2 linked regions of the Homo sapiens genome follow. The protein of the gene in region 2 purifies or fractionates together with the protein of the main gene of each other region. This does not show direct contact. Each region holds a gene or a part of one and is shown on either strand. Other genes may lie near its edges.

What was found.
Region 1: the proteins of ANKRD9 (region 2) and AMBRA1 purify together in Homo sapiens (affinity purification with mass spectrometry; 2 studies listed by BioGRID and IntAct, with this or other methods). This does not show direct contact.

The regions. Positions count from the first base shown.
Region 1 is NC_000011.10:46,429,783-46,437,076, reverse strand, and holds part of AMBRA1 (activating molecule in BECN1-regulated autophagy protein 1), read left to right. Parts: intron 1-2,039; coding exon 2,040-2,228; intron 2,229-3,448; coding exon 3,449-3,603; intron 3,604-5,989; exon of another isoform or gene 5,990-6,186; intron 6,187-7,294. UniProt on the Homo sapiens protein: Substrate-recognition component of a DCX (DDB1-CUL4-X-box) E3 ubiquitin-protein ligase complex involved in cell cycle control and autophagy.
Region 2 is NC_000014.9:102,501,032-102,504,994, forward strand, and holds the end of ANKRD9 (ankyrin repeat domain-containing protein 9), read right to left. Parts: 3' UTR 736-3,963; downstream 1-735.

The sequences.
Region 1 (7,294 bases), on a different chromosome or scaffold from region 2:
TAGGTGTTTGACCAAAATAAACGTTAACACACACGAGCTGGATCTATGTAACAGCAAGATAGGAAAGTCTACTTTAATAACATACCCAACAGACATTTTCGAGACATTAAATGTAGATAAAATGGTAACTGTTCAAAGCTGTCTTAAAGCCCATAGAGTCTCATCTCCTTTCCTATTTAGGTTCATGTACTACTTAACATTTATGATTTCTTTATTTTCTTTCTCTCCCTGCTTTTGGTGGTTAGAGTGTAAATTGTTAGTTTCTGTTTATTTTTCTGAGCATTGTCAGCCTCAGAGTTAGAAAACCAAGATGGTCTCACTTCTGAAACTTCTCCCAGTTCCTTTGGTTCTATATCCCCAGCTGGATTCATGTGTTGATCCAGAAAAGGAGAGGGATATTGCCGTGTTTTGTTTTTGTTTTTGTTTTTGTTTTTGTTTTGGCAAAGGGCTTGGGACCCTGAGTAGTAAGTAGCAGACGGTCCCAGTGCTAATTAGATAAATCTAGCCTTACAGGCTAGACCAGATGGTGGGTTGGGAGTTGAGCAGTAGAAAGGCCTAATGGTGATAGCAGTGAGTATTTGGATATCATTATTTTATTAGTTAGCAAACAGAACCATCCTTGTGGTCCCTCTTCGGTTTTATGTGTAATGGTGCTGTAGGTGTCAGCCCCCGAGTTGGCACAATAGCCTAATCAATGTATTCTAATGCCTTTTTTGATATACACTGTCATCTCATTAGCAACACACAGGGAAAGGAGAACAAATAGAGTTTTACAAATCACTCTTAAGTATCAGATCACATAAGCCTGGGGGCCTCTGAAAGAGCAATTCCTTGTTTTGTTTTCCTTGAGGTAATTTCCTAGGGAAACTTGCCCTTGACTTTTTTTGGATTACTGCAGTAGATCACCTGGACTCTGGCGAGGGCAGCTGAGCTTGGCTTTTAAAAAATTACCACAATGCCTCTGACAGTGGACATCTCCTTCAAATAAGAGAAACAGTGAAAAGTTTTTTTGCTTGAGGTATATCTACATGAGACAAAGCCCTGATGAGCTTGGTCTGTTTGAATGTGTTGTGCTGTTCTGCCCGGGCCCATGATGTGGGCACTCTTGTTCTATGCTCACATCAAGGGTAAGCCACTTCTTCCTGGCAGGGAATCACACGGTGGGACTCAGAGGGATTCAAATGAAAACCGAAACAAGGCCTATAGGCACAGTGCCAGTTAACATCTCATTGGTGCTGTTGTGTGGAGTGGATGCTCCTCACCAACAGACATTCCTCCACCCTCAGATCTTGCCACCTTACCAGGCTGAGCCTGCTGCCTGCCTGACCCTGCAGTTTGTTCTCAGGAGCTGCAAAGTGCAGACTAGGGCTGTCATGGACATTGGCATAGAGCATAGTGGGAAATGAAAAGAGCCCTGGCCATCCAGCCGCAGCTGGGCTTTGTTCTGTTTCCTCTCTTGGTAGAGTTAGAGATTAGTATTAGCAAGGAGCTGTTCCAGAAAACTGGTCTCTAGATGTTCCAGTTCTCTTTCTCTTAAATGAGAAAGTAAGATACAAATTTATGAAATGACTTTCTTCTCCAAGGTCACATAACAGGTGTTGAATAGGATTCCTGCCCCAAGAAAGCTCTACCTGTATCATCTTTTTCTTGGAACCAGTGGGTTTGCATTTTCATTTATCTTGGTTTTGATCTCTGGGACAATAACAGCTGTTAAATGGCTCTCTAGGAATAATTTTTAATAACTTTTTCCTTATCTAATCTCTCAAGCGGTATTTCCTAAATGTGAACTAAGACTCAGCAGGTGGTTGTGGTGGTGTTGACTATCCTATAGTTTCCTGCTAAGGTGGGAGAAGAGACATACTTTTCTTGCCTCCTGTGTTTTGTTCATTTGACATTTTAGTTTGAATGAGAAGGTATTCTTTAGCATTTCTAGACAAGGTTCAGGCCCTTAGGAAGTCCCTAAAGTTTCTTGGCCCCAGAATTTTTACAGTATCAACTCCAAAGTTTCTTATCCTCTTTTCTTTCTTTGTCTGATGCAGCTTCCGTGAATGTGCTGGTGCAGAACTGCAAGATCTACAATGATGCCAGCTGTGACATTTCTGCAGATGGCCAGCTCCTGGCAGCTTTCATCCCCAGCAGCCAGAGGGGCTTTCCTGATGAAGGCATCCTGGCAGTGTACTCCCTGGCCCCCCATAACCTGGGCGAAATGCTCTACACCAAGCGATTTGGTAAGGGATAGGAAGCCCAACCTAATGACAGAGGGACGCTGGTGCCTTGGCATGGTCATTGCTAGGTGAGGCACAGCTTGGGTGGGAGTAATGGTCACATACTGCCCCTACCTTCACTGGGGCACAGGCCAGAGAAAGATTGCTTTGCAGGAGTGCTGGCTAGTAACATTGCAGAAGCATCTGAGCATTAGAGTCCTACCGCATGCCCCTGTTACGACGGTCAGGAATAAGGGAGGAGGTGGTTGTAGCACACACATGCACTGCAAGACAGTTTGGCATTGTGTATTTAAAACCTCCCAAAATGTGTCAGCTCTTTGGCAATCCAGCTTTTAAGGAAATAATCAGAAAACTATACAAAGATTTACATACAAGGGTGTTCACAGCAGTGTTACCATACAGAAAAATGCCAAATTGTTGCCTTGAGACTTTTTTGTTTGTTTGTTTGTTTGTTTTGCGGGAGGGTGGGGTGGGTGTTTTGTTGGTGTCACCTTGAGTTGAATTTAAGTGTTTTTTGTTTTTTTTTTAAGAGTTGACTAAACAAATGATGGTGCAGTGATAGAACTGCTCCATTGGCCCTTAAAATGCTCTTACAGAACAGTGTTCATAATGTATTAAATGAAAAAGGTGGGTTTCAAAATAGTAATTACAGGATGTTAACAATTTTTTAAAATGTTGATAACAACGGTTAGCATTTATTAAGTACTTTCTTTCTTTTTTTTTTTTTTTTTTTTTTGAGACGGAGTTTCACTCTTGTTGGCCAGGCTGGAATGTAATGGCGTGATCTCAGCTTACCGCAACCTCTACCTCCCGGGTTCAAGCGATTCTCCTGCCTCAGCCTCCCGAGTAGCTAGTATTACAGGCATGCGCAACCACGCCTGACTAACTTTGTATTTTTAGTAGAGATGGGGTTTCTCCATGTTGGTCAGGCTGGTCTCAAACTCCCTACCTCAGGTGATCCCCCGACCTCGGCCTCCCAAAGTGCTGGGATTACAGGCATGAGCCACCGCGTTCAGCCTTATTATGTGCTTTCTATATGTCAAACACTACACTCAGTATGTATATGCCTTCTCATCATACTCCTCACTACAGTCCTATGAGATAACACCAGGATGAGCAAGTGAATATGAAGATTAGAGAAAAAGACAAGAGTAAGAGTGAAAGTTGTTTCCTTGGAATGGCCAGAAGCCTAGGAAATATTTCTCTGTTTTGTTGGCCCTCAGGTCCCAATGCCATTTCGGTGAGCCTGTCCCCAATGGGCAGATATGTAATGGTGGGCTTGGCCTCACGAAGGATCCTGCTGCACCCCTCCACAGAGCACATGGTGGCCCAGGTCTTCAGGCTGCAACAGGCCCATGGTGGAGAGACCTCCATGAGGGTGAGTGCCATTGCTTGTGCCTTCACTGTATGGCAGCTCCCCTAGGCTTGGAAGGGTAATGAGGGGACAGTGGTGTGACCTCCCAGCCAGGACCAGAGCTATCACACAGTCATAAGGAGTAAGGAAGGGCTGTAGTCAAGCCCATCCATGACCAGCAGGCTTCATTTGTGGAAGCTCTGGACTATCAAAGGCCTTTCCTCACACCCTAGAATATGTGCTGCATTCCCCAGAGGCCTGCAAGTATCTTCAGATAAACTGAATACTTCCTTACTTCTACGTGAAACTTTTAATCTGGAGATGCATAAAGGACCCAATGAAATGCTTATTTTTAAAGCTTTTTGTGTGTGTGTGTGAGGGAACAAGCTGTAAAAAGTAATAGTATGCCATGAAATGTTTTTTTTCTGTGGGTTATAATTATGATGGAAGATGAAGACTTTAGGCAGTTGCTGTATTCTTAATCATCCCATTCATTTCACCAGTGGAGAAAAGGTCCTGTCTAGGACCCTGTCTTGTCTAAGGCACGTCTCTCTTATATTGCCATAAAAGCCTTCTGGGCATCCTGTGGTTCGTGGCCTTTTGGCCTCAGCCAGACTAACGTGCCTGAGTGAACGTCCCACGTCCCATAGGTGCTCATTTAGCCAGGGTTTTGTCAAGGGGATTCAAGCATTTGAACAGTTCTCTAATTAGATAGTATTCAAGCTTTGTCAGAATCCAAGAACCTGTGAATTTCCTTAGTACTTTGTGCAATCTGTACCATTTATAGTTGGATGTACTTGTTGGTCCATTTTTTGTCTTCTTTAGCTGTGTAGCGTATGTGTTTAATCCACCCAATTCGGTTCAGTGTAAGCTCCTTAGAGGGATATCCCTCAGGTCCCTCATTTAGTGCTGTGCATGTAGATGGCTGTTGAATATCTGGAATGGGAAGCATTTGTTTTAAATAAAAAAACTAGAGATAGCACCCATTATATACAAAGTGATAGAAAGTGGGTGGCCTGGTGTGGTCCTTTCCTCTCCAGCCTCTTCTCCCTCCTGTCTCCTACAGATATCCTCTGTCCAACTACACTGAGCCACTTTTCAAGCTTCTTGAATTTGTCAAAGTGCCTTCTTGCCAGGGTACCTTTACTTGGAATGCCCTCCTGTCCCCTATCTCCAGCTACCTGCAAGCTTTTTACTTTCTGTGGCATCCATCTTAATAGAATTGATCACTCGTTCCTTGTGCTATCATTGTACCTCTTACACATTCTCATGTCAGTACTTGTCACACCAAACTGCAGTTATTTGTTTCCATGTCACTCTCTTCTCCTGGGCTGTGAGCTCCTTGAGAATAGAGACTGTGTCTGTTTTATCTTTATGAAGTCCAAGAACTTCATGCGGAACCTGACACTTAGTAGAAAGTGAATGAATGAATGAAAGAGAATCTCAAAAAAAAATAAATAAATAAAAATAAAGCATCCTCTTTATCATTTCTAGGTGGTAACTAGCAGAACCAATGATGGGTAACATAACATCATGTCCCACCAAGCTTCTGAAAGGAAAACAAGTCATTCTGTCCTCTTGATATCACAATGACAAGAAAGTTCTGATCTTGAATTCCATATGGCTGGAAATATTTGACATTGGGTGAATAGGAGATGTCATTGTGGGATGTTCATCAAGTCTATTTTCTTATCTAGATATTTGAGGATGGAAGTTGAGTTTTCATTTAAATATTCTTCTTTTGCTTCTCTTAAGCAGAAGCTGGTCTCTGCTTTTCACCACCTGGAATCCCAGTCCCAACAGCTGCTCTTCTAACCCTTCCGGCCTAATTGTGGAATAATCGTTTAAATCATTAAGAGACAGAATCTGATGTTGGTAGCTCTGACAGACCTCTCTAGCTTCTTTCATAAGCCAGGGCTCTTGCCCAGCTCCTGCACACAGCCTGCCAGTTCTCCATCTTAGCACAGTTCCACTTTTCCATAGTAGCCAGAAACATCTGGCTGAAGACAAACAGTTACAAAGCAGAAGCCAAGGTGATGGGATCTGTTGTCACATATGGGGCTGGCAGCTCAAGGAATGTGGTTCTCTGCTGAGGAGATGTGGTAATCCAGTCAGCCCCTGGCTGTCCTGCCAAGGGTCTCAAGGCAGCTAGCCAGCAGCTGCATGCTTGGTGACTGGAGCTACTACTACTGCCAGGCTGCCTGGTGAACCTTTTTTGATTCTCAGTAGGTACCATCTGCCACCAAGCACTAAGAAAGGGAGCTGAAGTACCTAGAAAGTTCCCATTTGGGAAGTGTTCCTGTCACCCAAGAGACAGGATCAAGGCATCTCAACAAGGTTTAGGTCAACCAAGTGTCCACCCAGTCTGACTTTAAACCCCCATGCTACAGAAAGGTTTCTGGTTTTCCAGGTCTTGGTTGCCCCTTACGTCCAAAGGCACCAGATCACTCAGCAAATGTCCCTGAATTCAGTGATTGGTGGAAGGGAAGACACCAGCTTTTTTGGATAGCTGTGCTGTATCACCGTTTAAGGCAAGAAGTGAATTTTTGTCTGAGAACAGGGAGCAAGGGTTTAATGGGACAGTACAGCATCTCCCTCTTTGCACAGGTAAGTATAGGTGGGTGTCTCCATCTCTAATGTCAAGCTCTGACCATAAAGGAATGCTTTAGTGGGTAATGGGCCTGTCCTAGAGCTTTGCTACCCAGAATTCCCCTTCTGTCTGGTGTTACCTCTTGGAATTCACTGTGGTAATGTTCAGAGAGGCAAATGTGTTGGGCCAACAGACATTCCCAGGAGAACATCCTCCAGAGCATTGATTTATTTTAAGATGGCACTAAGTGACATCTCTCCCCAAGAGATGATCTCTGACACAATCCCATATGAAAACTCTTCTGAAAATGAATTGCTAATTGCTATTAGCCTTGATGCACTTACTCTAAGCAGTTCTTCAGACTTCTGGATCAGTGCTTCTCAAACTGTGGTTCTTGGACAACTTACAGTAGAACTACATGGGTCCTTATTAAAATACAGATCCATTTCAGACCTAAAATCAGAATAAGAATGGGAGTCAGAGGGACCCAGGATTAGTATTTTTAAAACAAGATTTCTTCATTTTAGGTGTCTGCCCTCAGCCTCCTCAGCAAGGCAGAGTCAGTCTCAGGTCTACTTGCCATTGTGGTTTTGTGCATGGTGCTTTGATTCTTTGCTAATTATGTTGCAGGCACAGTGGTGTTTGTCTTCTGTTTCCTACCAAACTCAGCTTTTTTGGCTGTCTGCGCCTCACCTCCCATCTTTTCTAGGCTGTTGCTGCTTTCCAGGTTTCTCCCTTGAATAGCTGTATGTGCTGGAGTCTTTTCTTTATGTTGAATCATTTTAATTTTTGTCCTTATTTCTAGGATCTAGGGTCCTTTTGATCTTTCCCTTCTCTGTTTATCGTGCTAGTCCTCCCAGTTTTAATGATGGGTAAGTCAGGAAAGTAAGACTGGGCACATATTTTCTCTCTCCCTTCCCACTGTCCATTTGCGATTCCTCCAGACTGGATATGCTACTCTCTATGACTCAGAATCTTATTTTCTGTCTGATTCCCTTCTGCTTGAGCCAGAGAGGGCTTTTTGTTAATTTTTGTTTTGTTTTTAGGTTAAGCTTTTAGAGACTGCTGAGCTGAAGTTTTGCTGAATTCTCAAAACACTAAACTGCCTGTGTTCCCTCTCGGCTT
Region 2 (3,963 bases):
TGAGAACTGCTAAGTGATGACAGGTGGAGCCCCAGCAGGGGCCACTCTATTGAATGGCATGGCCCAGACCCTCGGAGGGCCAGGCAACAGGCTAGCAAGGCCCACAGGGAGGGAGCAGAATGGAGAGGGCATCTCAGATGCGCTTAAGGAGCGGCGGGGGCGGGGCATGGGGGGTGTCACAACTAATGTGGCCACTGCTTCATTCTCTGGGCAAAATAATATTAAATGGATTAAAGAATCTAAAACCAGTGGGAAAACTGTCTGATTTCTGGATGGCAAAGGCTTTCTAAACTCAAAAGTGATAGGACAAGCTACAGAGGAAAATAAGTACATAGATTTGATTTCTCCAAAATACAGAAATGCTGCTGGGCACAGTGATGTGCAGTTATAGTCCCAGCTACTTGGGAGGCCAAGGCAGGAGGATTACTTGAGCCCAGGAGTTTGAGGCTGCAATGAACTATGATCACACCACTGCACTCCAGCCTCGGCGACAGAGCAAGACCTTGTTTCTCAAAAATAAATAAATAGAAGGAAATAAATGTAAAAATGCTGCAAATTAAAAACCTCAAAGAAGGGAAATAATTGCAACAAATGGGAATTGATGTTGAATATTTACCTTAAAAACCTATACAACAATAAGAGGAGTGCGCCCTTCAGCAGCATGTATACAAAAATTGCAACGATACAGAGATTAGCATGGCCCCTGCACAAGGATGACTCGCAAATTCATAAAGCTTTCCATAAATATATTTATTAAAAACCAATAGGAGGAGCACTTCGAGTCGAGTGTAAGGGCCCTTCACAAAAGCAGAAGGAACACTGGCCCAAACCCCCAGCACCCCGGAAGCAGAGGTGAGATGGGAGCAGCTTGGGAGCCCCCCATTGGCGCCGCCCTACTGGGGAAGCCGGTCCGTACGTAGGCCTTGCATCTCGCCACCTCCACTTCTGTCCTCAAGAACAAGTCCTAGGTCAAGGGAAACAGCACAGCCTGTTTATAATTAGGAAACACTTAAAACAGCCTGGCATTTGGGAACAGCCATGTTAACGTGAGCAAATTCCTCTCATGAAATAGCCTGCAGCTATTAAGAAGCACGTGTGTGCAGGAAGCGGAGGCGCAGGACCTCACCGCGCCAGCGTGAAGTTCCCGGGCATGGTCATGAAAGCGTGGTTCTGTAAGAAATCAGAGGGAGAAAGGGAGAGAAGGGGGAGGGAGACAACCCAAACGTTGGAGGGTATTTGTTGTAAACTTCAAACTTTTGGCAGGTTTGAAATTTTTCATAACTCCGGGGAGGAGCAAGAGGGGTGAAAAGAAACAAGTTCTCTACTTGTGATCAGCAGCTGGTCATAGTGGTTGCCTGGAGTATATGCCTTTTTGTATCCTTTGAATTTCCAGCCATGTAAATGTATTATTTATTCCAAAAATAAAGCAGATTTACATTTTAAAAATTCAGTTGTCTCTAACTACTCTTTGTTATCAAGGCTGGTTGAGTCAAATATCACAAAGTAGACACCAATGACTTCTTAAAAATCATATTTACAAAGTACAATGGGGGAAATGCTTATACTACATTAAGGTTAAAAAAATACTAAATTGTGTAACTGATCTGGTTTCATATATATATAAATATACACAGAAAAAAATGTAATATATATCTGCACAGAAAAAAGCTGAAAGAAACATATGCCAGAATGCTAGCAGTGCTTGTATGCGTGCAGATGACGCACTCAGTCAGCGCCTTTACTTGTACGTGAGCGCTTAGGGGCCCTGTCTCTGGGGACCATGTGGGGCGGTGGGGCGCTTGAGACAGTGTTTCCCTGCATCGTGGCCGGACCTCTCTACTCAATCCCCAGTGTTCTACAGTGAACATGAATTTTATAAGCAGAAAGAAATTACTTTTAAGAGCCAGGCGCAGTGGCTCACACTTGTAACCCCAGCACTTTGGGAGGCTGAGGCGGGCGGATCACAAGGTCAGGAGTTCGAGACCTGCCTGGCCAACATGCTGAAACCCAGTCTCTACTACAAATACAAAAATTAGCCGGGCGTGGTGGCCAGCGCCTGTAATCCCAGCTACTCCAGAGGCTGAGGCAGGAGAATCGCTTGAACCCAGGAGGCGGAAGTTACAGTGAGCTGAGACCACACCATTGCACTCCAGTCTGGATGACAGAGCAAGACTACATCTCAAATAAATAAATAAATACATAAATAAATAAATTACTTTTAAGAATCACCAATAGAAATCTGTCTTTCCATCTTTTTTTTTTTTTTTTTTGAGATGGAGTCTTGCTCTGTCGCCCAGGCTGGAGTGCAATGGCGCAATCTTGGCTCACTGCAACCTCCGCCTCCTGGGTTCAAGCAATTCTCCTGCCTCAGCCTCCTGAGTAGCTGGGAGTACAGGTGCCTGCCACCACGCCTGGCTAATTTTTTTATTTTTAGTAGAGACGGGGTTTCATCATGTTGGTCAGGCTGGTCTCGAACTCCTGACCTCATGATCCACCCACCTTGGCCTCCCAAAGTGCTGGGATTACAGGTGTGAGCCACCGCGCCCAGCCTTTCCTTCCATCTTGATTGCAGTGGTGATTACACACATGTAGACATTCATCAGAACTCATCAAAGTATACACTTAAGTCTGTGCATTTTATTACATGTAAGTAACACCTCAATCTGAAAAGTATCAGGGCAACACCACACACTGCAGAGGGGCAGGGCTCCTCCGGCAGTTACTCACTTCCCTTGAAACAGAAGCTCAAACATGGAGTAGTCTTCTGTGACTAAACTTGTTTTCCGCCCTCCCAACTTCCAGGAAGAACCTTCTTCTGAATAGGATTTGAGGTAACTTAGGAAACTGCTCTCAATACGGAATTTTAAAGTTGGTGAGGAAGTCGACAGAAGGGGAAGTCACAGTAGGAAAATCAAGGTACTATCAGGATGAAGTCAGCACGCAGAGCAAGGCCAGCGAGGCCCAGGCGCCAGGCCTTGGTCCCTGCCCACCTCACCCAGGCCAGCCAGACAGCACGGACTGCCCTACAAGGTCACCTCAGAGAGATGGGGGTGTTCTCTCACTGCTGGCTTTTGATGAGCCCAGGAGGGCTCAGCCTTCACTATCCTCCCTAACAGGCATTTGGGGTGCAGAGATGCTGACGCCTGAATAAGGTTGGGATTCGGGGCCCTTGGGAACACTGGGCACCTGGTGGGTGGGTGGAGGGGCAGGACCGGCTGCAGCCATGTTTCCCTTAGAAACAGACTGCTGGAATTAACGAACTAAACAAATGAACCAAGGTGCTTCACCCCCCAAAAAAGTGAGTTTTGTTCTGCGTGGAGCGATTGCCTTTGGGAAGCCACCAAGGCCACCTGCCAACAGGCAAATGCTGTGCTGCCGTCTGCCTGGCTGACTCCGGCCCTCCCAGTCCTGCAAGCTCATGGCCAGGACGATAACGATGACAGGGGCAACACCATGGTCCTCGCTGCCCTTCCTGGGGCAGGAGGGCCCAGAAGACTGATAAGCTAAACCCAGGGCCTCCCTCGGCTGCTTATCTGCCCAGCACCTTTCCTCTAGGTCCTCTCCTCCCACCAGTACAGGGGTCTGGGAGGGGGTTGCAGGGGGTCCTGAACCACAGATCCCTGGAGACTCAGTGGGAGCAGCTGTACTAGGAATCAGGCACCACTCCGCTGCTGTAAGTCTTCGTGAGAGCCACTGGCCAGCTTCCTCTGACTTCCCTGTCCCCTCACCCAAATCGATGACATCAGGAGCTAATGGCCCAGGCTGCCCTCCTGCTGCAGTGCCCATAATTCTTCCGGCAGGCCCCGCCCTGCACTCCACGACCAGCCTGGGTTCTTCATCCTGGTAACCTGACAATGGATTTCGTGGGGCCCACTCTCAGTGCCCGCCAGCCTGTGTCCTGCCTGGCCAGGCAATGAGTACCGGCGGCAGGCAGCTGCCTCACCCCTGCATGACCCCCCCAGC